Homo sapiens: one gene and its partners. The protein of the gene in region 7 purifies or fractionates together with the protein of the main gene of each other region. This does not show direct contact. Each region holds a gene or a part of one and is shown on either strand. Other genes may lie near its edges.

What was found.
Region 1: the proteins of UPK1A (region 7) and ALG11 purify together in Homo sapiens (affinity purification with mass spectrometry; one large-scale study listed by BioGRID and IntAct). This does not show direct contact.
Region 2: the proteins of UPK1A (region 7) and POMT2 purify together in Homo sapiens (affinity purification with mass spectrometry; one large-scale study listed by BioGRID and IntAct). This does not show direct contact.
Region 3: the proteins of UPK1A (region 7) and NIPSNAP3A purify together in Homo sapiens (affinity purification with mass spectrometry; one large-scale study listed by BioGRID and IntAct). This does not show direct contact.
Region 4: the proteins of UPK1A (region 7) and MTCH2 purify together in Homo sapiens (affinity purification with mass spectrometry; one large-scale study listed by BioGRID and IntAct). This does not show direct contact.
Region 5: the proteins of UPK1A (region 7) and SPPL2B purify together in Homo sapiens (affinity purification with mass spectrometry; one large-scale study listed by BioGRID and IntAct). This does not show direct contact.
Region 6: the proteins of UPK1A (region 7) and SLC49A4 purify together in Homo sapiens (affinity purification with mass spectrometry; one large-scale study listed by BioGRID and IntAct). This does not show direct contact.

The regions. Positions count from the first base shown.
Region 1 is NC_000013.11:52,018,898-52,022,397, reverse strand, and holds part of ALG11 (GDP-Man:Man(3)GlcNAc(2)-PP-Dol alpha-1,2-mannosyltransferase), read right to left. Parts: intron 3,486-3,500; coding exon 3,255-3,485; intron 1-3,254. UniProt on the Homo sapiens protein: GDP-Man:Man(3)GlcNAc(2)-PP-Dol alpha-1,2-mannosyltransferase that operates in the biosynthetic pathway of dolichol-linked oligosaccharides, the glycan precursors employed in protein asparagine (N)-glycosylation.
Region 2 is NC_000014.9:77,279,384-77,282,883, reverse strand, and holds part of POMT2 (protein O-mannosyl-transferase 2), read left to right. Parts: intron 1-2,420; coding exon 2,421-2,492; intron 2,493-2,803; coding exon 2,804-2,863; intron 2,864-2,955; coding exon 2,956-3,061; coding exon of another isoform or gene 3,062-3,200; intron 3,201-3,297; coding exon of another isoform or gene 3,298-3,347; intron 3,348-3,500. UniProt on the Homo sapiens protein: Transfers mannosyl residues to the hydroxyl group of serine or threonine residues. Coexpression of both POMT1 and POMT2 is necessary for enzyme activity, expression of either POMT1 or POMT2 alone is insufficient.
Region 3 is NC_000009.12:104,750,683-104,754,182, forward strand, and holds part of NIPSNAP3A (protein NipSnap homolog 3A), read left to right. Parts: intron 1-273; coding exon 274-484; intron 485-2,223; coding exon 2,224-2,382; intron 2,383-3,500.
Region 4 is NC_000011.10:47,629,060-47,632,559, forward strand, and holds part of MTCH2 (mitochondrial carrier homolog 2), read right to left. Parts: intron 2,653-3,500; coding exon 2,595-2,652; intron 2,029-2,594; coding exon 1,977-2,028; intron 1,556-1,976; coding exon 1,496-1,555; intron 1-1,495. UniProt on the Homo sapiens protein: Protein insertase that mediates insertion of transmembrane proteins into the mitochondrial outer membrane. Catalyzes insertion of proteins with alpha-helical transmembrane regions, such as signal-anchored, tail-anchored and multi-pass membrane proteins.
Region 5 is NC_000019.10:2,342,184-2,345,683, reverse strand, and holds part of SPPL2B (signal peptide peptidase-like 2B isoform 2 precursor), read right to left. Parts: intron 2,474-3,500; coding exon 2,392-2,473; intron 1,720-2,391; coding exon 1,645-1,719; intron 1,323-1,644; coding exon 1,260-1,322; intron 1,132-1,259; coding exon 1,032-1,131; intron 432-1,031; coding exon 354-431; intron 1-353. UniProt on the Homo sapiens protein: Intramembrane-cleaving aspartic protease (I-CLiP) that cleaves type II membrane signal peptides in the hydrophobic plane of the membrane. Functions in ITM2B and TNF processing.
Region 6 is NC_000003.12:122,878,354-122,881,639, reverse strand, and holds the end of SLC49A4 (solute carrier family 49 member 4), read right to left. Parts: intron 2,378-3,286; coding exon 2,262-2,377; 3' UTR 501-2,261; downstream 1-500.
Region 7 is NC_000019.10:35,665,063-35,669,316, reverse strand, and holds the start of UPK1A (uroplakin-1a), read right to left. Parts: upstream 2,801-4,254; 5' UTR 2,779-2,800; intron 2,509-2,778; 5' UTR 2,505-2,508; coding exon 2,421-2,504; intron 1,370-2,420; exon of another isoform or gene 864-1,369; coding exon 663-863; exon of another isoform or gene 632-662; intron 1-631. UniProt on the Homo sapiens protein: Component of the asymmetric unit membrane (AUM); a highly specialized biomembrane elaborated by terminally differentiated urothelial cells.

The DNA of each region.
Region 1 (3,500 bases), on a different chromosome or scaffold from region 7:
TCCATTTGTTTTTTCTTTCTTTTTTTAAGACAGGGTCTCGCTCTGTCTGTCGCCCAGGCGGGAGTACAGTGGCGTGATCTTGGCTTATTGTAGCCTCCACCTCTCGGGTTCAAGTGATTTTCGTGCCTCAGCCTCCTGAGAAGCTGGGATTACAGATGTGTGCCACCATGCCCAGCTAATTTTTGTATTTTTTAAGTAGAGAAGGGGTTTTGCCATGTTAACCAGGCTGGTCTCAAACTCCTGGCCTCAAGTGATCTGCCAGACTTGGCCTCCTGAAGTGCTGGGATTACAGGTGTGAGCCACTGTGCCCGGACGGGCCACAAATTCTTTGATACTTTTCTCACTGAGAGGTGGCATCTAAGTCCCCTCCCCTGGAATAACACCTGGCTCTGTGACTATTTTGACCAACAGAATATGGCAAAAGTGACATTGTGCCAGTTTCCCAACATAGACTCTAAGGGACTGGCAGCTCCTACTTCCTGTCTCCTGGAATGCTCATGCTAGGAGAAGACAGCTGTCATGTACGGAGTCCAACCAGCCCGAGATTGCTATGTTGTATGCAAGCACAACCAAGTCACATGAAGAAGCTCCTCAGTGAGAGAGATGCCCGACAGCCCCCAGCAGGTCCAGTTATCCCAGCCCAAGAACCAGAATGTGAGTGAAAAAGGCTTCAGATGCCTCCAGCCCCAGCTGCCATCTAATTGCAACAGTATGATGGAGACCAAACATGGCAGCCCCTAAACCATGTCACAGAACAGTAACCCCAAAACTGGTTTACTATAGCACTTAGAATAAAATCTAAACTAATTTCCCTGCTCACTCAAGTCCTGTGTGATCTGGAACCTGCCTCCCTCTGTCACCTCCCTTCCCATGCTCTCCTTTGCCCTCCAGGGTGCAGCCAAACTGGCATTCTTTTTTTTTAACACGCCAAGCTCCAACCAGCCTTAGGGGACTTGCAGTGGTTGTTCTCTCTACTCTGAATTCTCTTTTCTCATTTTCACTGTCTTTTCATAAGGCAGGCAGTTTAGCATGTGGTTCAGAACATGGGCTCTAGTGCCCCAGTTTTCTTCTTTGTCAAATGAGGATAATGGTAACAACTGCAAAAGGCTGTTCTGAGGATCAAGTGAGCTAACACATGTAAAGCACTTCAAACAATACCTAACATACAATCATCACGCAGTGAATGCAGCTGTTTTTGTCATTCAGATTTTGATTGTTATCAGATATTTCCCTGATCACTCTATCTAAAGTATCAAGTCACTCCTATATTACCCTATTTTAACTTTTTATATAGCACGTCTCACTATTTGATATTTTTCTTCTTTGCTTATTATCTTGTCTCTCTCAACTAAAATCAAACGTCCAGGAGAGAAGGACTTGATCGATCTTGTTCTCTTAATCTCAACCCCCAGAACAGTGCCTGACACATAGCAGGTCCCCAATAAATACTGCTAGGTCGAATGAAAAGTGCACTGTAGTATGTGTTGAGTTAGGAAAGGCTTGTAGAAATTAACTGGGGAGAAAAAGGTTATTTCAGAAGAAAAGAACACTATATAGAAAGGGAAGGACTCGAGAGAGAGCATGATGTGTTCAGGGAGCTGCTCCTTGTTCTGCATGTCAGAGTAAAGTACCTGTGAAGGAATGGGGAGGGATGAGAAACGCAATGTGGCCAGAGCAAGATGAAAAAGTATCTTCCAAGTCATATTAATGATTTGGTTTTTTTCTCCTTGTAGATGGGTTAGGAGTAATAGAGGCTGCTGGGGACTATGTGTACAGATATCATGAAACTTTACCACCGCCATCAAGAGGTAGATAATCTGGTTAGAGAAGAAAAAAGTATTATCAACGAGAGTAGGAAAAGCATCACGGAGTTGGGAATTATGAGAATTCTTTGTATTTAGGCAGTTACAGAAGATGGCAGAGCAAATACAGGGGTAGGGCCTGGAAGCTAGGATGGGCCAGGATTACAGAAAAGTATAGCTGAGGTAATTCTGTGTGAAGGCCTTGGCACTGAATGAAGGGTGTGTACCAGGAAGTAGGGTAACCATGAAGAGTAACAGTTTTCCTCATATGATAAAATAATGGAACCTACTATGCTTTTTCCTTTCTAAAAGAGAATCATAAATATTTTGGGGGTATGGGGGGTGGTGATGACGAAGCCTCAAATATTAAAAGATGTATAACACCATATTCCTTCTAACATGGTAAGTTGAGACTATCCAGCTGGTAATGATATAAAAATTTGAGTCAAATAGATACTTTCATAAAGATTATTCCTGTGTGCCACAACTGCCTGAAAGTATTCAGGCTTAAAGTGCTCTGACATACTTGGTATATTTCTGTCAATTACTTAATCTCTTCTGTATATGCTCTCCCAAGGGGACCAGTTATTCCCATTAATTTATGCCATAAAAGGGCAGATGTTTTCCCCATCCACTGTCCATTTCTTTCTTTCTTTTTTGTTTTCCCTTGAGACGGGTTCTCACTCTGTCACCCAGGCTGGAGTGCAGTCAGTGCACAATCATGGCTCACTGTAGCTTTGACTTCCCAGGCTCAGTCAATCTTTCCACCTCAGCCTCTGGAGAAGCTGGTGCGCATCACCATGCCCAGATAATTTTTTGTAGAGACAGGGTTTCGCCATGGTGCCCAGGCTGGTCTCAAACTCTTGGGCTCAAGTGATTCACCTGCCACGGCTTCACAAAGTACTGGGATTACTGGTGTGAGCCACCATGCCTGGGTTTGTCTATTTCTTTATCATAGTAACTAAAGTCAAATAAGATCATATAAGGTATGTGGGCACATGAAAGAAATATTTTCTTATTGAAGAACAGTTTAAAAAGGAATTCATTTTTTACTTTAGGTACTTTAGAAAGATGAGGCCGGGCACGGTGGCTCACACCTGTAATACCAACACTTTGGAAGGCCGAGGTGGGCGGATCACAAGGTCAGCAGATCGAGACCATCCTGGCTAACATGGTGAAACCCTGTCTCTACTAAAAATACAAAAAATTAGCCGGACGTGGTGGCGGGCACCTGTAGTCCCAGCTACTCGGGAGGCCGAGGCAGGAGAATGGCATGAACCTGGGAGGCGGAGCTTGCAGTGAGCCGACATCGTGCCACTGCACTCCAGCCTGGGTGACAGAGTAAGACTCTGTCTCAAAAAAAAAAAAAAAAAAAAAAAGATGAATTTCTGGATAATAATTTTTAAGAAATGGAACAATATAGCAAATTAGCTAAGAAAGATGGATACCTACTTTTTCTGCAGGGCTCTTAAAGCACACCATAAAACTCTTTCTCCTCCTCCACCAGCATTGCAGTATGGATGAAAAAATGCAATCACCATTTGATTTTTCCCATTTTTGCTAGTTGACACTAATTTTTTCTTTCTCTGTAGCAGCAGTCTGATTCCCCAAAGGACAATGACCAAACACACACATAAAGTTCCACATACAATGAGCCCAGGGAAGAATAATGAATAAAAAAACCTGAAATAAGAGGAC
Region 2 (3,500 bases), on a different chromosome or scaffold from region 7:
TCACTCTACCCACAGCATTGCAGGGAGGTGTAGCACTTGTTATTTTTCCCCTGGTAAGCCATTGTCAAGTGGACTTCCCTGGAAGTGATTATGTAAGCAGTACTCAGTACATATAGTTGACTTATTTCACCAGATTAAATTTTAAAAATTCAAATTTTGTCATTTTTGCGCATTGGGAGGTGATAAGTTGACATTAAGCATCTCTGGGTCACTTCCTTTCTGACTCTCTGCTTGTAGCTGTCACTGTGGCCTGATGACATAGCTCTTTTGAACATGTGCCTGTCAGTCAGAATATCATTCTGGGCCTGGGTCAAATTTTAAGACTAAATCTACGAGTTTCATTTTGTCTTTCATTATCTAAGAAGTAGAGTCAGAGAAGAAAAGGGAAGTAATGAGAGCTTTCTTATTCAGCCAACAAAGAGTCAGGGAGGGGAGAGAGATGAAAACAGTGAGTCCAGACTATAGAAACTGCAGGGGCAGGGCTCTTCCGCTGGCTGAGTAGTGGCCCGGGACCTGGAGGAGAAGGCTGCCTTGCCTGGTGCAGTTACAGGAATGAGCCCATCCAGATTTCAGCCATAGAGAACAACTTACAAGTACATATGCCTGTGATGGTTGCAGATTTTTCTTTCCTCTTTTAGTTTAGCAACAGAGCAGGATTTCTCAGAGTTTAATGTAGTGAATAAGATTCCCTTGGCTTGGTACAGTTCTGGCTGGAGTCCTTGGGTTTGGGACCAAACTGTACAATTTGAAGGAATTGGTTTCCCTCAGCAACTGCCGCAGGGGTCCAGAATGATTCATTCCTCATTCCCAGGTCCTTCAAAGGGCCGCAGTGACGCTGGGGCCGTGCAGCTGTCCCCTTTGTGTCTGATGCCCTGGATGCACTTTTGACCTTGGAGGCACAACCTCTCCACCATGTAGAGGCCTGTAAACTATTCCCAGCCCCTTGCTGAACTGGATTCATAAGGCACTGGGTGGCAGTCCACTGAACTTTCTGGGTCTTTCTTAGGCTATACCAGTGGTTCTTAATTGAGGGTGATTTTGCCTCTCGGGACTTTTGGCCATCTGTGGAGAAATTTTTGGCTGGGAAACTGAGGGGTTGAGGGTAGGAGTGCTACGGGCATTCAGTGAGTGGAGGCCAGGAATGCTAAACACTCTGCAATGCACGGGACAGTCCTCACAGCAAAGACTCATCCAGCCCGAAATGTTGGGAGTGCTGAGGTGGAGAAGCTCCGGCCTAAGTCATGGCAGCTGACTCCCCTTCTGGGGAAATGCCTTTTCAGTCTGTCCCAGTGATAAGGCAGAACCCAGTCCTAGTGGTTAATATCCTGGATCCTGACCCTACTCCTTCCTGTTTTAGCAAAGACCTGGTTTGCCCTGTAGAGAAAGGTTAGCAGATGTTCTTGGCTGCTGGATTAGGGAGGCTGAGTCTGGGTCCTTCAAACCAAAGCATGCATTAGGGTTGATTTCTCTCCCAATAGATGAAATGTGTTCTTGGAGGGCAAAATATCTAATTTTTTATGTATAAAGCACAAGTAAGATGTACAGTATAAAGTATTAAAATGTCATGGAGTGTGTTTAGGGAGAAACTTGTCTACAAAGGCTCCTGGTAGAGGGGCAGTAGTGGAAAAAAAAGGTGGAGAAGCACTAAGCTAAAGCAACCTCTTCCAAGTCTAGGCACGCATGAGAGTTTCTGCTTTTCTGTTTGAAATTGGCCCCTGAAGGGAACAAATAAGTAAGCCTTATTATTTATTTATTTATTTATTTATTTATTTATTTATTTATTTATTTTGAGACTGAGTCTTGGTCTTTTTGCCTAGGTTGGAGTGCAATGGCATGATCTCAGCTCACTGCAACCTCCGCCTCTTGGGTTCAAGTGGTTCTCCTGCCTCAGCCTCCCAAGTGGCTGGGATTACAGGCACCCACCGCTACGCTCAGCTAATTTTTTGTATTTTTTAGTAAAGACGGGGTTTTACCATGTTGGCCAGGCTGGTCTTGAACTCCTGACCTCAGGTGATCCACCCGCCTCGGCCTCCCAAAGTGCTGGGGTTACAGGCATGAGCCACTGCACCCGGCTGTAAGCCTCATTTTATATCCCCTCTCTCCCACCATTTTCACACCTTGTCCTTAGCTTGGCAGATGGGTATATATTTTGTGCCCATTGGAACAATTTCCTCTTTCCCTTCTTTTTCCCTAGAAGGTTGGAATGGACCCCTTATGGGAGATGGAGGCTTGTCTGGGAGAAGTAAAGCAAGTGTCGTAGGTAGGCAGACAGCAGCTGCCTGATTCTTCCCTGCAAGGGAAGGGAAGGAGAGAAGGTTCTGCTCGGCGCTTGGCCCTATATCAGAAAAACCTGGGCCCCACATTTCTGTCAGCCCTCTAGATCTCTGTCTTGACTAGCTTTCTTTGCTACCTTCATGCAGGGGAACAGTGGCCTCAAACCCAAGGACAATGAGTTCACGTCCAAACCCTGGCACTGGCCTATCAACTATCAGGTAGGATCCAAGGCTGGGGCTCCTCCCAGGAAATGGAGCCAAGAACAAGAGCAGGGAGACCGGTGGAGGCGGGGGTGGGTGTACTAGGGCGGCAGGGCGAGGGGCCTCCTGGGATGGGTTGGCCAGAGGTGGGAGTATCTGTTTTCTGCCCTAATTCTGACCCTGCTTCCCAGAGAGCTCGTGTAGAATTTGCCAGCCTGAGGTTCGTGTCCAGGCTCCCTGTCTGTGGAAGGTGACCATCTTCCTCCCCCTAATGGGTGTGGCCGAGGATGGGCTGGGCCTGGGTCAGCAGGGTGGTCTCTATTCCACAGGGCCTACGCTTCTCAGGGGTCAATGACACAGATTTCCGAGTCTATCTGCTTGGCAACCCGGTGAGTGCCTAAACATTCCCGGCTCAGGCCCTGGAGCACTTGCCCGTGGAGAGCGGCTGCGTTCTCATCTGCCCATTCCCATTTCTGCACAGGTGGTTTGGTGGCTGAATCTGTTGAGCATCGCCCTCTACCTCCTCTCAGGGAGCATCATTGCTGTAGCCATGCAGAGAGGGGCACGGCTGCCAGCGGAGGTTGCAGGTCAGGTCCTCTGGGCTCTCCCTCCCCTGACCTGGCGGCAGCAGGGCACCTGCACCCCTGGGGAGGGCCGGCTGCCTGCTGATGGGCCATCCTTTGCGTTTACCACCCCACACCTTCCCTTATCCTTTGCTTTTGAAAGGTAACAACCCCCAAGTACCCAGTGCTGTGTTAAACACTTTACTTCCTCCCAACAACACTAGAGCGTTGGCTATTATGACCCCCATTTTATGGATTAGGAAACCAAGGAACCATGAGATTAAGAAACTTGCCCCAGGACATACAGCTAGTAAGTGATAGAGCTGAGGCTCAAACCCGTGCAATCTGACTCCACAGCCCTCACTTTTAGCCCCATGCTGTGTACAGAGCTGCCCATCTTTTCTGCCACCTCCTTGTTCCATGGCCCTGTCCTCTCATGGGCTAGAGAGGAGCCTCCAGGGTT
Region 3 (3,500 bases), on a different chromosome or scaffold from region 7:
ACTCCTACCCTGTGGAGTGTGCTTTCATTTTCAATAGATCTCTGCTTTTGTTACTTCATTCTTTCCTTGCTTTGTGCATTTTGTCCAGTTCTTTGTTCAAACACCAAGAACCTGGACACCCTCCATCAGTAACATATTGAGAATTGACAACAGAAGTACAAACATGAGTAATGAGTCTATGAGTGTCCCTTGTACCAGATTCAGATTAGGTTTTAACACAATATAATGAATCCTGTCTTCTCAAGATATTTACATTTGTCTTATCTTCTTCAGATGTGCTCATCTTTTGCTACGGGACCCAGACAATACGATGGAATATTCTATGAATTTCGTTCTTATTACCTTAAGCCCTCAAAGATGAATGAGTTCCTGGAAAATTTTGAGAAAAACGCTCATCTTCGGACAGCTCACTCTGAATTGGTTGGATACTGGAGTGTAGAATTTGGAGGCAGAATGAATACAGTGTTTCATATTTGGAAGTATGGTAAAGAGTCATCCAATTTTGGCTTTCAGTATAGATTTTCATTTTTCAGTATAGATTTTCATTCTGTTAAATGTAACATAAAACTTAGTTCTTGGATGTATATTATTTTAGATACATACAGGTTAACTAAGACTTTTGAAAAGCAATACCAAAAAAATAAATTCAGTTCTTATTCTTCCCAGTGGTACACCTCTAACCCCTTGCTTAAACATTACATTATATTACATTATAAATTGGAAGACATGGCATCTCATATATCAAGCGATAAAATTGTGAACTAGACTTTAAACCTCAGAAAAATATTAAAATGGTTTGCTGTAAAGATAGTTCATGAAAAATTTAAAGCAGCAATTGTAAAAGTCCAAGTGGATTAAGATCACAAAAGGAAAGGAGAAGTATCTTTTCTCTTTTTGAAGCTAGGGGGCTGGATATCAGTATTTTAGCAGAAATAATTCAACCATTTAAGGGACTTCACAATATGGAGGTTTATAGGGGATGATGGTTAACTTTCAATCCTCACTGAACTCTGAGATTTAATAATTCTGTTATGTTTAGAGACCACATTTGTTTCATATCTGTACCCCCAGAGTTTTGAGGAATTCACTGTCATACTACTCTAGGGAGGTAAAAGAAAAGGAATGAAAGAGAGTTCTTCCCGTGTTGAAACTAACCTACGCCTGGTTTAGTAGAGGAAGGAGAATAAGTTACAAGAATGCCCAGAATGCTTGTTACTCCAGTGTCTACATCAGGACTTGATGATACCTAAAGAATTTTTAATAATTTCATTTAGTGTTTGGTTTAGGGTTTTTCCCTGTTAATAGAAAAAGCCCCATTAAAATACATTTTATGCTTTAGATGTGGTACAAGTTGTATCACAGCCCATTAAAAAAACTAAGTTCTGATATACCTCACTTAAGTTGTAAGATAGGTATTCTTCCTTATCCCAATGTAAACCATATGAACCTCTCTTGCCATTAGTCTTATGAGGTCCTAATGGTAATTATAGTACTAGGCCCATATGTTGGCAAATGTATATAACTGTTTGGGTAACTTAAATAGAAGAGAAATAAGTGCTGGGGAGAAAGAATGGATGACAATAAGAGAATCAGCATTATTTCTTTGAAATCTGTTTGTTCAAAGGAGAAGAGGCTTAAAAAGTACGGTTTAACTTCACTCATGTTAAATTTGATTCAAGATGTTTTAACTTCACTCATGTTAAATTTGATTCAGGGTGTATCTGAACTTGACTACCCACCACCACCAAAGAAAAACAGTCTTTCTCTAAACTAGCACTATAAGTTAAATGCCTCAATCAAGTAAGAATAGTTCACATATACTGAGTATTAACTAGTGCCAACCGCTATATTCTAAACTCTTTTCATGTGTTAATTTAATCCTCATACAACCCTGGAGGTAGATGTCTTATTATCTCAATTTCACAGAAAGTGAGGCACAGAAAGATTCAATAACTTACCTAATTCACAAAACTGCCTACTATATGGTTGAGCCTATAAAGCCTATTATGTGGCATTACAGTTAGTTTGCATTTCTACTGCCCTTTTTGTCCTTGAGCAACTTCAGGGCAGATGGTCACATCTGTTTACGTTGGTGTCTCCAAAGGCCTAACACAAGGTTCTTATATGGCATCAATGACCATTGCTGATGTGAATGAAACCCAGAAAAGTACAGGTGATTTAAAATTGAATTTTTTATTTTTCTTAATTCTTTTCTTCCCACAGATAATTTTGCTCATCGAACTGAAGTTCGGAAAGCCTTGGCCAAAGATAAGGAATGGCAAGAACAATTCCTCATTCCAAATTTGGCTCTCATTGATAAACAAGAGAGTGAGATTACTTATCTGGTACCATGGTGCAAATTAGAAAAACCTCCAAAAGAAGGTAAGTCCTTCCTTCTTAGTCACTGAGTTTTGATGAATAAAATACTAAAGAACTTAAGTGATCAAAACTGAAGTTCCTTTGGAAAAAAATAAAATTAATTCTTTGTTTTATATAGAAACATACAGTGATTGTTGTGGTAAAAATAAATGGGAGCTCTTACCCCATCCTTTAAAAAAATGAGCATAAAATAATGAGATATTTTTCAAATTGAGACCTTGCAGATTTGTAAAGCTTAACTGTGTTATAGAGAAAGCTGACATGGTCAGTAGAGGTTGAGAATTTGTGCATTGGGAGCAGAGAACGTGTTGATAGGTAAGGGATAGCATAAGAAGTTTTGCCATAATTTTAAAATAATATGATCTTTAAAATGTAAAAGTATTTCCATAAATTATAACTAATCTTAAATCATTAAATACAGCTTTGCTTATAAAACTGAGTATTTGGGGGAAACAGATTAAGTGAAACTGCCAAGCTATATTACTTTAATCTAACTTTTGTGTCTTCTTTCTTGTTTCTCAGTTTGAAAGTAATTGCTTAAGATTTGTCTTCTTGCTGATTTCACTTCTTGCTGACTTAAAGAAACTATTACCTCAATCCAGTTTTAAATAAAGGTCAGATTAGAAAAGCATAAACTTATTTAAATGTTATTTTACTTCCCCCATTATTCCCAACTTTGTAGTGTATTTAGGTTACAAAAAATTTACAAAGTCTTCCTTGGATCTTTACCTACTTAGGTGTCCCCTCAGCTCTCAGCACTATCTAAATAAAATAGTTCACTTCTCTGACAGTGTCAAATCTTGGTTCTCCTCCTCTGTGTACATCACTGCTTGGAAATTTTTACATGCTTTTCCTACTTGTCCCAGAGTTTCTTTCTCTCCACCAGCCCTATACTTCTGTCCAAAGTGTACAATACTTTTCAAGTATTTACCTGGATATTTAGGAAAAATAAAACCATCTCTTTAGGTTTGTCTTTTTTCCTCCAAAATTCAAAGATATCACTTCAGGTCCACTCTTTGCTTTGCTGTTCCTGTTAAAAATGGAAACTTATAGGGAGAAATTATATGAAGAAAAACATAGTGGAAATTGGAAAGAATGAAAATATAGATTGGAAAATTCTT
Region 4 (3,500 bases), on a different chromosome or scaffold from region 7:
CAATAAAAATAAGAACCAAAAAATGTGATCAGTAACATGACAGGCTCTTCAGTACAAATGTTTGTCAAATAATTAGAGGTCACAAAACATTCTAGGGAAGTAAAAAAGGAATCAAACACCAGAATCCAGCCCGCATACCTAGTTCATTCTCGTTAACACAGCTGTACTTGAAGCTGATCTCCAGTGACTTTTGTTCCTATGTTTAAAATGCAGGTCGGCTATACCCTCAGTGGCTCACCTTACTATTCATAACTGTAAGCAGGGAGGCAAAAGATTTGCGAGGTGCTTTGCAGAAGAGACTTAAATATTGTTTTGCTTTGACTAGCTTAAAAAAATGATTTTGCTAAGCTATCTGATATTCATATTTGGCAGAGCAAAAGACGAGAAAAATTACAAAGCAAGAATGGTCCCAAGTACAGATACAGATGAGAGGCATCAAAAACCACATTTCTAGGGTCTGGGTGACCTAGGTGAGGCAGCATGGAATAGTGGGAAGAGCATTTCCCCACGGATTGAAGACCAGCTTCAAATGCCAGCTCCAGCACTCAGCAGCGATGTGACAGGCAGCAGATGAAACTCTCAGAGCATCAATGTTTTTTAATCTCTAAAGTGATACTAATTATAGCTGTCCTGCCTATCTCACAGGGTATTTATGATATTCAAAATCCGTATGGGGAGATACTCTGAAAATTAAAAAAAAAAAAACAAAAAACACCATTTCGGTAATGATGCAAAATTTTTCCTCATAGAAGAATGAGGGTAGTAGTCTAAGTTCTTCCAAAGTAAATTCAAGCCTTGCAAAAACTTACTCTTTTACGGTAAGGAAAATACAAGTTAAGATGATTTCCCCATTTTTCAACATTTAATTTTTCTCATTTTATTATCTATATAGAATTGGGAGTTTACTACAAGGGTAGAAACTTGGAATTAAGTCCTTTGTTAAAAAAAGAAATTCCTTATTTATTTATTAATTATTATTATTTTTTTGAGACGGAGTCTCACTCTGTCACCCGGGCTGGAGTACAGTGGTGCAATCTCAGCTCACTGCAACTTCCACCTCCCGGGTTCATGCAATTCTCCTGCCTCAGCCTCCCGAGTAGCTGGGATTACAGGCACACACCACCACACCTAGAGGTGGGGTTTTACCATGTTGGCCAGGCTGGTCTTGAACTCCTGACCTCAGGTGATCCAACCGCCTTGGCCTCTCAAAGTGCTGGGATTACAGGCGTGAGCCACCACGCCCGGCCTCAAATGTTTTAAGTATCTAGAAGTAAAGGTTTGGGATCTTTACAAGATAATTCTAGTCATATGGGGCCTAAATATGCCTTTCTGCAGAGAAAAAAGAAAAAAAAATAAGGGGCCTAAATAGAATGTAACGTGAGGTAAGCCCAGGGAGTACGTTTTCCCCAAGGATTAAACAAAGACTCACTATTCTTACTTTCAGAAAACGTTTCCCACTCATGCAAAAATTACACACTAATCAACATTTACTCACGCGAAAAATCCTAGAATGCCCTCTTCCCGATAGATGGTTATTATGGAATCACAAAGTCCACTACGTACACAAGAAGAAAAGGTAAAATATATTAAGATTCTTTTGGAGCTATAAACAAAATAATTTCAATTATCACATTGGACAAGGTCAAATCCACGACCTCCTTCCCTCACACTTTTCTAGCACTCTCTCACTCTGCAAAGATAGCTAAATTTGGAGATAGAAGTGAAAATATTAACTACCTAGGGGTATAGTCATATGGAGTCAGGGGCTCTGCAACTTACTCTGAAATCCTACGTAGGCTACTAAACCTGCCTGGGTATATTTTCTCCCATTTTATTGTTTTTTGTGCAGATCAAATGACATCAGATACGAATTTGTTCTACAAATTGTAAGGGTATCATAAAAATACAAAGTAGTATTATTCTAGTACTTTGGCTTCAAAAGATCTCCTTGAGTATGTGAAAACAAAAATACTTACCAGTACTTGGATTCTCTGCCAATGAACTGTACCATAGATCTCAGAGTGATCACTGTGGAATATAGAGAAAAGATGTTTACAACTATGTTAAGGCCAGGTGCGGTGGCTCACACCTGTAATCCCAGCACTTTGAGAGGCCGAGGTGGGCGGATCACCTGAGGTCAGGAGTTCAAGACTAGCCTGACCAATATGATGAAGCCCCATCTCTACTAAAAATACAAAAATTATCCAGGCGTGGTGGCATGCACCTGTAATCCCAGCTCCTTAGGAGGCTGAGACAGGAGTACTGCTTGAACCCGGAAGGCTGAGGTTGCAGTGAGCCAAGATTGTGCCATTGCACTCCAGCCTGGGCAACAAGAGTGAAACTCCGTCTCAAAAACAAAAAACAAACAAACAAAAAAAAACTATGTTAAGATAGATTTTGATAGCCCTGGGAAAAAAAAAGATTTTCCACCTAAAGACATTTTGCTATCTGGATAAATTGGATAAAAGCCAAAACAAGCAAGCAAACAAAAACATGCAGGCAAGGCATTTTAGTCAACTCCCACGTCAACCTATCTAAGTGGTCAGGAGAGATCAGGTTATAAAAGAAAGGTCAGTTGTCAACTGCAAACATACCATGGAAGGGATGTGTGATGAGGGTAGCAGCAGAACGAGCGATCATCTCTCGAGTTGTCTAGAAACAATCAACACACACTTCTGAAATCTAAACAAATGACACTCAAATGCCTGTGAGAAGGAATGTGGGTGGATATCGTGGTATAGGATAAGAAAGTGAATGACACAGCCCTCCTGCCCTGGCTGGAGTCAAGAAGAGTTTGAATGGGATGTGAAAGATCTCATTCATTGTCATTTTATCATACTTTTCACTCATGGATCTCAATGTTCTATTATAGTTACTTCTCAAAATTTCTCTGCAAAGCAGGCTTCTGTTGTTTTCTCAATTTTACAGGTAAGAGAAAAAAATAAAGAAACAGGAAAGGTCACCAACAAAGTCATTAAGCTGAAATAAAAAATATGAGGCCTTTATTGAGATTATTAAGTTGCTCTCTTATTGGTAAGTGATTTTGGAGAGTCTGACATCATTCTAGATAAATGACAGGCTCCATTTAGTCTCTACTCACATTTTTGGGAGAAGAGAACAATTTTGTTTTGTGACTACAACCCAGTAACTGTGCAGTATCTTAGAGCTGCTGTGTTTTTCCTAGTTTATCTTTCTACTCTAGGGCTCTGTAAGGAAGTAATAAAGAAAATTAAATTATAATCTTTGCATTTAGGTTCTGGGATTGCAAATGTAAGCAGGTCTACCATTGGCTTTTGCATTTTTTTTTTTTTTTTAGGACAGTCTTGCTCTGTCACCCACGCTGGAGTGCAGTGGCGCGAACTCGGTTCACTGCAAGCTCCGCCTCCCGGGTTCACGCCATTCTCCTGCCTCAGCCTCCCAAGTAGCTGGGACTACAGGCACCCGCCATCATGCCCGGCTAATTTTTTTTCTTTGTATTTTTTAGTAGAGACGGTTTCACC
Region 5 (3,500 bases), about 33 Mb from region 7:
GTTGCAGGCACAGGCCCGGGGAGAATGAGAAAGAGGGGGATGCAGGCACGGGCCCAGGAAGAATGAGGAAGATGGGGACAGAGGCACAGGCCCAGGAAGAATGAGAAAGAGGGGGTTGCAGGCACAGGCCCGGGGAGAATGAGAAAGAGGGGGATGCAGGCACAGGCCCAGCCACCCGAGCCCAGCTCCCGGAGTGGCCAGGGGGTTAGGGTTAGGGTGTTATGGTTACGGTGTTAGAGTTGGAATTAGGGTTAGGGTTGGGGTTGGGGTTAGGGGTCAGGGTCAGGACAGAGGCTAAGTCGGGGTGGGGCTGGAGCCAGAGAGGCCAGCACGGGCCCAACCGAGGCACTTACCGATGGTGCAGGCCACGAAGTATACCCTGGAGGACTGTACCTGGATGTCAAACCTGTGGCAGTAGGCCACCAGCAGCCCTGGGGGAGGCACAGGGCGGAGGCTTACTCGGGCCCGCAGAGCCTCAGAGCAGGGGCTTCCTGGGAGCGGGCGGGCACCTGAGCACCTGTGGGCGCCGTGGGCCTCTCGCTGCCTGGTGGCTGCTGTCATTTCACAGACAGGCCACACGCTCGCTCGGGACAGGGCTGCCATGACTCTCAGTGGGTAAACTGAGACCACAGTGAGAACAAAGTCCAGGCAGACACACCTGGCAGGACCCTGGGGACACTGAGGCTGCGAGGGTACAGTCTCTGCCTTCTGCAGCAACATGAGCTCACTGGGACCCGGGATCCAGGCCCCAGCAAGGACCCCTGCACAACCCCGAGCAGGATGGGGTGAGGCTGTCTGCAATCGGGGGGCCTTCCCCGCTCCCTAGGAACAAAGGGGGTCCCTACCCCACCCAGGCAATGCCCTCGCTGCCCAGGCACCCAGGCCTCAACGGCCCCAACCTGCCCGACTCTGACCCTCAGGGCTTTATCTCCAGCCGACGGTGTGCGGGCCACTCACTCCCAAAGGCAAACCTCAGCCGCCCGGGGCCCTGCCCCACAGCGTGGACCCGTGTGCTCCACCCGCCTCAGTACCTGGCACCAAAATGTCTCCGAAACCCAGGAGGGAGAAGGGCCGGTCACACAGGGCCAGAGGTGAGGAGTTCAGCCTGGGCACCTTCAGGACCATGGGCAGCTGCAAAGACGGGAAGAGGACAATGTCCTCCAGGACCCTCACCCGGCCGCGGGATGCCTCGAGCCCTATCCGCTCCGCGCAACACCTTGACCCATGGCAACCTGAGACCCTGCAGTCAGAAGACACACCTTCTCACGGGTGGCTGAGTCCGAGGGCCCAGTGGCCACCTCCACCATGATGCTGCTCCCACTCTGCACAGAATGGGGTTGAGTGAGGGAGCGTGGTGATGGGGTGGGGGGGCAGGGGAGTGGGGTGATGGGGCGAGGGGGCAGGGTGATGCGATGGGGGGGTGCAAGGGGCAGGGTGATGGGGGGTGATGGGGCAGGGGAGCAGGGTGATGGGGTGGAGGTGAGCGGGGTGATGGGGTGGGGGGCAGGGGAGCACGGTGTGGGGTGGAGGGGGACGAGGGGGCGGGACGAGGGGGCGGGGTGATGGGGGGGGTGATGGGGCGGGGGTTGCGAGGGGGCGGGGGAGCGGGGTGATGGGGTGGAGCAGGGACAGGCAGTCGCCTACCTTGGTCAGGAAGGGCGTGATGAACACGAAGAAGATGTCGTAGAGGAACAGCACCAGCAGCAGCAGCGTGCAGGCCTGCGAAGCCCACGGCTGAGGGCGGCCCCCACCCCGGCCCGTGCCTCCCCCACTCCCATCTCATGAGGCCCAGCGCCTCCTCCTGGGAGGCAGCCTTTAAAGGAACCTGAGCAGAGCGTGCCCAGTGCCAGGGACGCACCACGCAGGAGGAGCTTTGGAAGCAACATCAGGTAGGGATTTACGGGCAAAAGTCAGGCTTTTAGAGTCTCCACGTAACAGGAAGGCGGGGACGGGAGGGCGGAGGCCTGTGCCACGCAGGGCCGGCTCTGGGGATACAGAGGGCCATCCTGGGCATTCAAATGCCGCTTGCTTGGGGTGCTGTGGGGCCCTCACGGGAGTGCAGCCGCCTGGGGCTTGACAACATCCCCGCACTCCCGGTACCACCTGAGGCCAGTTCCTCCAGCCCTATTCAACCACTCTCACCACCACCTCATCTAGACATGAGTTGCCCCTGCCGGGAACCGCCCCGCAGCCACCCACCCAGGCCGCCTCAGCGGGGGCTTTGGGACCCAATCTTCAAGCCCCACCCTTCACAACAGGCCTAGGCGGCCATCCCCAGGGCAGTGAGCAGGAGCACAGACCTGCAAGGACCACAGCCCCACACGGGCCAGGCTAGGATGAAGGGCCCCCACTACCCATGCTGCCCCGCAGCCGTGCCCTCCCTGCACTCACCTTGAAGGTGGGCAGACGGATGGTCTTCAGCATGTAGAGGCAGAAGGCGATGCCCAGGGCATCCTGGAGGACCCAGGCCCACCTGCAAGACAAAGCAGCATCCTCGCCGGGGCAGAGGCTGGCTGACCACCCAGGACGCCGCCTCCCACGAGCCACACAGGGCCCTTGCTCTCAGCCAGCACGCAGCCCCACTGCCCTTCCACCTGCCCAGGGGATGACTCTGAGGACCCCAGACCTGTGGGAGGACCCCTGCTGTTACAACTCCAGCAGGGCTGGCGGCACAGGCCCCACCCCAGGGCCCACCCTGCGGAAGCAGGTAGAGGAGCCCACCACTCGGCAGCCAGGACAGTGGACACAGGCCTGGCCGGCTGCGTCTCCTCGGTCGCTGTCCCCAGATGGTGGGGCCAGGACGGTGGACACGGGCCTGGCCGGCTGCGTCCCCTCAGTCGCTGTCCCCGGATGGTGGGGCCAGGATGGTGGACACGGGCCTGGCCGGCTGCGTCCCCTCAGTCACTGTCCCCGGATGGTGGGCGTCACGCTGTAGGCAGGGGTCACAGGCTGTAGGCAGGGGCCAGGCAGAGGGTGCGTGCGCAGGAGGGCTTGGGCACTGACCCCTCCAAACTGTTTTTATTTTGTTTTTGAGATGGAGTCTCACTCTGTCACCCAGGCTGGAGTTTGGTGGCACGATCTTGACTCGCTGCAACCTCCACCTCCCAGGTTCAAGCAATTCTCCTGCCTCAGCCTCCCAAGTAGCTGGGATTACAGGCACACACCACAATGCCAGGCAAATTTTTTTGTATTTTTAGTAGAGATGGGGTTTTGTCATGTTGGCCAGGCTGGTCTCAAACTCCTGACCTCAAGTGATCTGCCCGCCTCACCTCCCAAAGTGCTGGGATTACAGGCATGAGCCCCCGTGCCCAAACTGTTTATTAAATTAAAACTTGTGCCACACCAGGTTTCCTCAAAGAACCTCTGGGTCCACAGTGGGTGGGGCTGCCATGCGGTTGGTGCCCTGGGGCAAAGCACAGAACTGCCTCCTGCACAAGGCCACGGCCCCTGCAGCCAGCCGCAACTTCGGCTCTCTCCTGGCCCCACGAAGCCCCAGAGTC
Region 6 (3,286 bases), on a different chromosome or scaffold from region 7:
GTTCTACACAAGAAATCTTACTATTGCAGAATGTTATACCACAACATCCTCAAACATAATAGTTCGGACTAAAACCAAATACCTTATAATTCTTCCCTCTCCTTTCTCTCTTCCCTCTGAACAGGAAGGGGTGGTGCTTATTTAGCATCCGGGTCATGGTCTACGGATATCCTTAATGGCTGGCTTTGAATCATCTTCAAGGAATCCGCCTTCTTGGCCTGGTGTGGTGGCTCACGCCTATAATCCCAGCACTTTGGGAGGCTGAGGCGGGTGGATCACTTAGGAGTTTGAGACCAGCCTGGGCAACATGGAGAAACACTGTCTCTACTAAAAACAGAAAAATTAGCTAGGCATGGTTGTGCGTGCCTGTAGTCCCAGCTACTCGGGAGGCTGAGGCGGGAGGATCACCTGCATCTGGGACATGGAGGTTGCAGTGAGTTGAGATTGCACCATCACAGAGCAAGATCCTGTCTAAAAAAAAAAAAAAAGAGAATTCTGCCTTCCTTTTATTTCATTTTTATTTCAGAAGAATAACAGAATTAACTGGAACTAAGTCTAGCTTTTGTTTTCTTCTTCTCTTTAGCAAGTTCCTTAGTTCCTTCAGTCCTTCTGCTAAGTGAGCAGAGTGTTTATAAAGAGAGACGATTTAAAGATGACTGAAGACAGATGTTAAATTTGAACGGTTTCTTACTTCCCTAGTTTCACAAGTTAGGGTCTTAGAAGTTGCCAAGCAGTACTAGGATACTCCTCTAGGACCGAGGTGAGTTAATGCACAGCCTTGTACTTGCTAAGGGGGAGGGGAGACAGACTTGGGAATCTGCATGTGGGTGTGTCATGGCGCACACAGGTGCAGAGAGGAGCAGGGCCCAGTGCTGCCCAGCTTTCCTGAACCTTCACCACCTTGGCTGATAAGAGCCACTTGCACTCTGTCCAGGAAAACACAAAAGTATATATACTTAGCTGACAATGAAGGTTCAATTTCAAGTGAGGAAAAACAAGAAGGGCTGGAGGAAGCTGAGAATAATAAAGGTATAGCAGTATTCTTGACTTTTTGGGAAAAGGGTTGGTTTTTCTGTGTGAGGGGAATGATGTAAATATGAATAGTGGTGATACCATATTCTCACTGCAGTGTATTTTACGTCACAGTGAAATCTGTGTCTGACAGCCACTCAATGTGGAACTCTTATTTCTTAAAAAGCTATCTTCTGTAGAAAGAAGATAGGTACTGGCAAAACGCTGCCCTCTCAAATATGCTGACTCCACAGAGAACGGAGTATTTTACAACCTAAGCTGAAACACAGGATGTAATTCAGAAATCATTCGACAGAGCTGAAAGTTTCAATGTGATAAATTATTATTTTTAAACAAGGGTCACTGAATAAAATCTAACCCTGGTAAATAATTGTTGGCTCTGGACATTACATCTCATGCCACCATATACAGGCAGAAGACACAGTATGTCCATGTGACTTGTCATTTCACTTGTAACAAAGTGCTAGATCCTAATGGAATTACATTTTTTCATACAATATTTAATGTAATCATATTAAACATTTAGACACCCTCACATAATTATTTAAGGGCCTAGTAGATGAAATTGTATTTCACAGAAACAAGGATAAGTTGAGATGGAGACACAGTGCCTATGCTCAGAAGTCACTGGAAAGCACCTGATCACCATAGTAAAGATGGCCAAGGGCTTCTGACCTGATTAAAATAAGGAGTCATATAAGAAATGGCTTTATTAGAAAAAATGTAGTGTACATGTGGCTAATTTCCATCATCGATATACCTCTTGGCTATTTTATCATTAAAATTGGATACAGGGTTTGAACTTCTTTAGAAGTTAGTGGCATATCTTCCTATTCTGATATGTGACTTAGGGAAGGCGTTATCTTCATATGATAGACACCCTTTATTTCTTTTCATAATTACAAGTAATCAGTAGTTTAGCACTGGCACAAAACAGAGAGAGAATTACTTAGGTAGTGCTTTATGTGTAAGAAGTCACACTTCCAACCCCAGAAGCAGGCACAGGTATGCCATCTGTAGAGTTTTAAAATCCCCTATTATCACTCAAGTCTCCCATTATTATTACCTAGTAGTAATTAAATTAATGTGATAATCTGTAACCTAACAAAACCTCTGAATGAAGTTTCTTTCTTCTCCCTCTTTTCCTGTTAGATGTGCAATTCTGAGCAAATGTGCAGTGTGCAGTATTGATTTCCAGCCTCCTTTTAAACTCCTTCAAGTCTGTGCTATTAAACGGAGACAACCACATCAAGATAGAGTCTGTCATAGGATTCCCTGAAGCACAGAATGAGGAGGAGACTGAGCAAACACGACCCGGGAAGGCACCAGTTGAACCAAGACAACTCTGTAAGACAAAAAAACATGCAGTTTTAAACATTCATGTATCACCAGCAGACCACCACCTGTATGCCGGAAGGAATCTGCTCTGCATTAAAAAGTACTTATAATAAATGTACCCTGGAAGGCCTAGAAACTGGCTTTCAATAAATAGTGACAATCTGGAGACTAAGTGATGTGTGTAATATATGACGGGGCTTCCATGTGGAATATTTTTAATCAATATTGTTCATAACTTTTCATCAATTTAATCCACCTTGACTTTGGTTACAAAATAAATTACTTCAAAGAAAAAAAATCAATCACCTTTAAATGTTAGTTTGATAATTATTTTTTAAGTACCCTCTATCATCATCACTCTTGTCCCTGTTTATAAATATCTGATGGATTAAAAAGACAAATACGAAAATCATCTGAATTTTGAAATAACACTTTTATATGTTTTGGATAGAAATATCTATTTCTCAGCAAAAACATTAAGTAGAAATCACTGTAAAATAGATGAGAAAATATATTTAAAAATAAAACATACAAAAAAATCAATCATAATTCTGTCCCCAGAGAGATCACTGTGAATATTTTGGCTTATTTCTTTCTAGTCTTTTTCTCTACCAGCATGAATGGTTATATATGATGCCAATTATTGGAAAACCTATAGGCATCATCTGAATGGGCAATTCTGTTGTTGTTTGATTTAATGTGTCAAGAACATGGTTCTTTAGAAATGCTCTCTCATGAATTCAGGATTCTCCAACAAGACAATCCTCAGCCATTTGCTACCAACACACACTGACCACTGTGGCTGCCTCTAGCTGCTTCCTGGAGCTCCAGGGACCCTAGGGCTGTGCATCTGTTCAGCCTTCCTCTACCCCAATCCCATCTGCCAGTCAATCCCAAGGCTCTGAAGTGAATAGCT
Region 7 (4,254 bases):
GTTATTCTTGTGGGCAGAGATTAAGAGCACAGCCTCAAGAGCCGATCTGCTCAGGTTGAAACTGGCTCTGCCATTGTCTCAATGTGTGACCCTGGATAAGTGACTTCACTTCTCTGAGCCTCAGTTTCAATCTTCATCAAACAGGGTCATGATGATGACAGTATCTCTTGGTGGACTATGAGGAATAAATGAACTAATCCAGTAAACCATTTAGAACAGCTCGTGGCTTGTAGTAAACCATTATTAAATGGTAGCTGTGCTATTATTGGCAGAGTTCATGAGCATGGACTCTGGAAAGCAGCTAGCAGGGGTTCAAATTCTAGCCCTGCACTGGGTGCAGGTAGAGGGGCTCAAGCCTGTAATCCCAGCACTTTGGGAGGCTGAGGCAGGAGAATCATTTGAGCCAGGAGTTTGAGACCAGCCTGGGCAACATAGTGAGACCCCCATCTTTACCAAAAAAAAAAAAAAGAAAAAATCCCAGCTCTGCTACTCAAGCCTGGGTTATTGGGCTGTGGGAAGACTGAATGAGATGATGCCTGGGATCCCTGAGTGTGACACCATGGGGAACTCACACTAGTGGCTGGGGCTGCACCTGCTACTATGACTCAGTGATGCTGAACTCCGTTTTCAGTGTCCCCATCCCCCAACCCCTGGAGTCTCACCGTGAGGACCATGGACCGGCGGCGGCAGAGTGCGGCACCCACACCAAAACTGGCTACCATGAAGAAGGAGAAGCCGCAGAAGATGGCAATCCAGGCACCAGCGAAGACGTCATCCTTGCCTGAGACTCCCATCAGTGGGTATACACGGTACTGGTCGGCTGTCACCCATATGGTCTCAGCAAACAGGGACAGGCCTGACAGCTGGACAGAGCGGTGGGTTAGGAAGGTCTGCTCGGGGCCAGCAGCCCTGGCACCAGGCATCTCCACGAGCAAGTTCCCTCCCCATTTGGAGCCTCCACTGCCCTCTCAGTAAAGTGGGCAAAGACCTCGCCTTCCATGAGCAGCGATGAGGGTGAGCAGAGGCCAGGAGAGAAGAGACAGCCCAGCCAGACAACCGACCCCCACGCCCCAGCTGCCAGTTTCTTCGGGGATAAAAGGGGATGCCACGTGGAAAGGCTGGAGCAGTGGACTGGCACAGAGGAGATGCTTGGTCCATCTGCCCTCCCTTGACAGTGCTGTTATTCCCCGAGGAGGGGAACATGGCCATGGCCATAAACATTACAAATGGGCCAGGCAAGGTGGCTCACACCTGCAGTCCCAGCATTGTGGGAGGCCGAGGCGGGAGGATTGCTTGAGCCCAGGAGTTTGAGACTAGCCTGGGCAATAGTGAGACCCCGTCTCTACAAAAAATAAAAAAATTAGCTAGATGTGGTGATGTGCACCTGTAGTCCCAGCTACTTGGGAGGCTGAGGCAGGAGGATCAGTTGAGCCCAGGAGTTGGAGGCTGCAGTGAGCAAGCATCACACCACTGCACTGCAGCCTGGTCAACAGAGTGAGACCCTGTCTCTAAAACAAACACACGGCCAGTCGCGGTGGCTTACACCTGTAATCCCAACACTTTGGGAGGCTGAGGTGGGCAGATCACCTCAGGTCAGGAGTTCAAGACCAGCCTGGCCAACATGGTGAAACCCCATCTCTTCTAAAAATACAAAAAGTAGCCGGGTGTGGTAGCATGTGCCTGTAATCCCAGCTGCTCGGGAAGCTGAGGCAGGAGAATTGCTGGAGCCCAGGAGGTGGAGGATGCAGTGAGCCGAGATCTCGCCACTGCACTTCAGCCTGGGTGACAAAGGGAGAATCTGTCTGAAAAAAAAAAAATTAGCCGGGCGTGGTGGTGTGCGCCTGTAATCCCAGCTATTCTGGAGGCTGAGGCAGGAGAATCACTTGAGCCCGGGAGTTAGAGGTTGCAGTTAGCTGAGATCAGCCACTGCACTCCAGCCTGGGCAACAGAGTGAGACTCCGTCTCAAAAACAAAACAAAACAAAACAAAACAAAACAAAACAAAACAAAAAACACAAAACCAAAACCCAATGTTAATTGAAAGACACTGTTGTTTTTCCTTCTTGTGGCCTCCTGTGCACCAGGCTGTCACTTTATATCCATAGTGATGCTGATGGTGATAGCCAGCATTGGTCGGGCACTTTCTCTGAGCTGAGGGCCACACATGGATTAATCCACATGACAACAGCCCACACAATGAGGACACAGTCTATAGATGAGGAAAGAAGGCACAGAGAGGGACAGTCGCTTGCTAAGGTCACAGAGCTGGGGAGAGGCAGAGCTGGGATTTCAACCCAGGCTGTGCTGACCACTGAGTCTGCCCGAGAGACAGTTCTGGACCCTCATCCCCCACCCCGAGCTCAGGACTGTCCCCTCCCCACCACACAACCACTCGGCTCCCAGCACTGGGGCGAGTCTCACCAGAATAATGATATTGCCCACAACTAGCAGGCCCACCACAACTGGAGATCCCTTCTCGGCCTCCGCTGCTGCCGCAGACGCCATCATCCTGGGACACATGAGCAGGGATGAGGCCAGGAGCGTAAAGGGCCAGCCGGACCCCCCATCTCTGAGCCACACCCTGGCTTCGAGGGGTTGCTCCAGCTCTCTGCGGGGCCCAGGCTGGTACTGATGTACCCACAGCCCTGGTGGGGAGGCATTTTGCACAAGAGGACACCCGGGCTCCGGTGGGGCAGTCACTGGCCTGAACTTGGCACTGCCCCTCCCTGAGCCTCAGACCCCTCATGCCATACCCAGACTCCCAGGGCCCCCTCCTCACCTTCTCTGTCTGCAGCCTCTCTGGCCAGCCCCACCCACCGTGGCTCCCTATATACGCCCAGGCCCCTCCTTGGGCTAGTCTCCCAGGAAGGAGGGAGGGTGTGTGTGTGTGTGTGTGTGTTTTGGGGCACGGCAGTGGGGTGGACAAGAGGCTGAGCCGGCAGACCAGGCTGGATGAACAGCTTTGATGGGCTCCCTGCCACCCCCATGATTTATAGACCTGAAATACCAGATTGTGTAGGACCCATGGCCTCTGGGTCCCAGGCTTTGTTGGCGGTGGAGGAGTTGGAGGTGGAGGGGCGTGCGCACCACCTGGTGTCTCTCTTGCTAGGACATGGGCCTTCCTGGGAATAGGAGCAAGATCCAAATCAGGGCGGGGCGTGGTAGCTCAGGCCTGTAATCCCAGCACTTTGGGAAACTGAGGTAGGCGGATCGCTTGAGCTCAGTAGTTTGAGACCAGACTGGGTGACATAGTGAAACCCCGTTTCTATAAAAAATACAAAAATAATTAGCCAGGCTCATGCCTGTGGTCCCAGCTACTTGGGAGGCTGAGGTGGGAGGATGGCTGAACCTGGGGACAGAGGTTGCAGTGAGCCAAGATCGTGCCATTGCACTCCAGCTTGAGTGACAGAGCCAGGCCCTGTCTCCAAAACCAAACAAACAAAAAATCCACTTCGGACCCACAGGTGGGTCCTGAATCCCAGAAGTGTCTCTCCTGCTGTGTGACCTTGCACAGGTGGCTGCTCCTCTGTGAGGCCGGGAGCCCGTGGGGAGGCCCAGGCAGGGACCCCTGCCAAGGCCAGGGCTGGACCGAGGCAGAGCAGTGGGGAGATGAGGGGACAGGTGGAAGGGGCGCTTAGGAGGCTGACTACATGGGCGGTGGGCTGAGGGAAAGGATGGCACCCAGGATAGGTGTGTGAGGGGAGTCTGAGATAAGTGCAAAGATGGGGGAGAAGAACGTGCTAGAAAATGAGAGGGGGCACACCGGGCTTGGTTGAAGAAAAGTCCCCGTCGCCCCCCAACACACGCATGGACCAGACATTTATTTCTTCAGGTGCAGAATGAGAAACCTAGGTTCAAATCCCGGTTCTGCCTCTTCTGGGCGGCACGACTTGGCTTGTGGATTTGCCCATCTGCGAAATGGGTATCATCAGACCGCTTCCCTGGCGGAGGTGGGGACTGAGCCAGCGCGTGTCCCCAGGGGCCGCCGATGCTGCCCACGAGGCCACGGTCTCTCCGATGCCACGCCCTCGCAGCGCAGGGCTGGCTCCATGCAAAAATGGTGGCCCAGGGCCCCCGACACCGTCCCCAGAACTTCTCAACCCCAAGGCTAGGCCGTGTATTGCCTCTGCTGTGGGAGCAGTGGCTCCCCACTGCGGTGCCTGCGAATTTGGCAAATGACACTGAAAATCCCATCGTCAAGGCACTGGTTTGGTAATAAGATACATGAGATGTTTTCCGATTAAAATGGTTAATT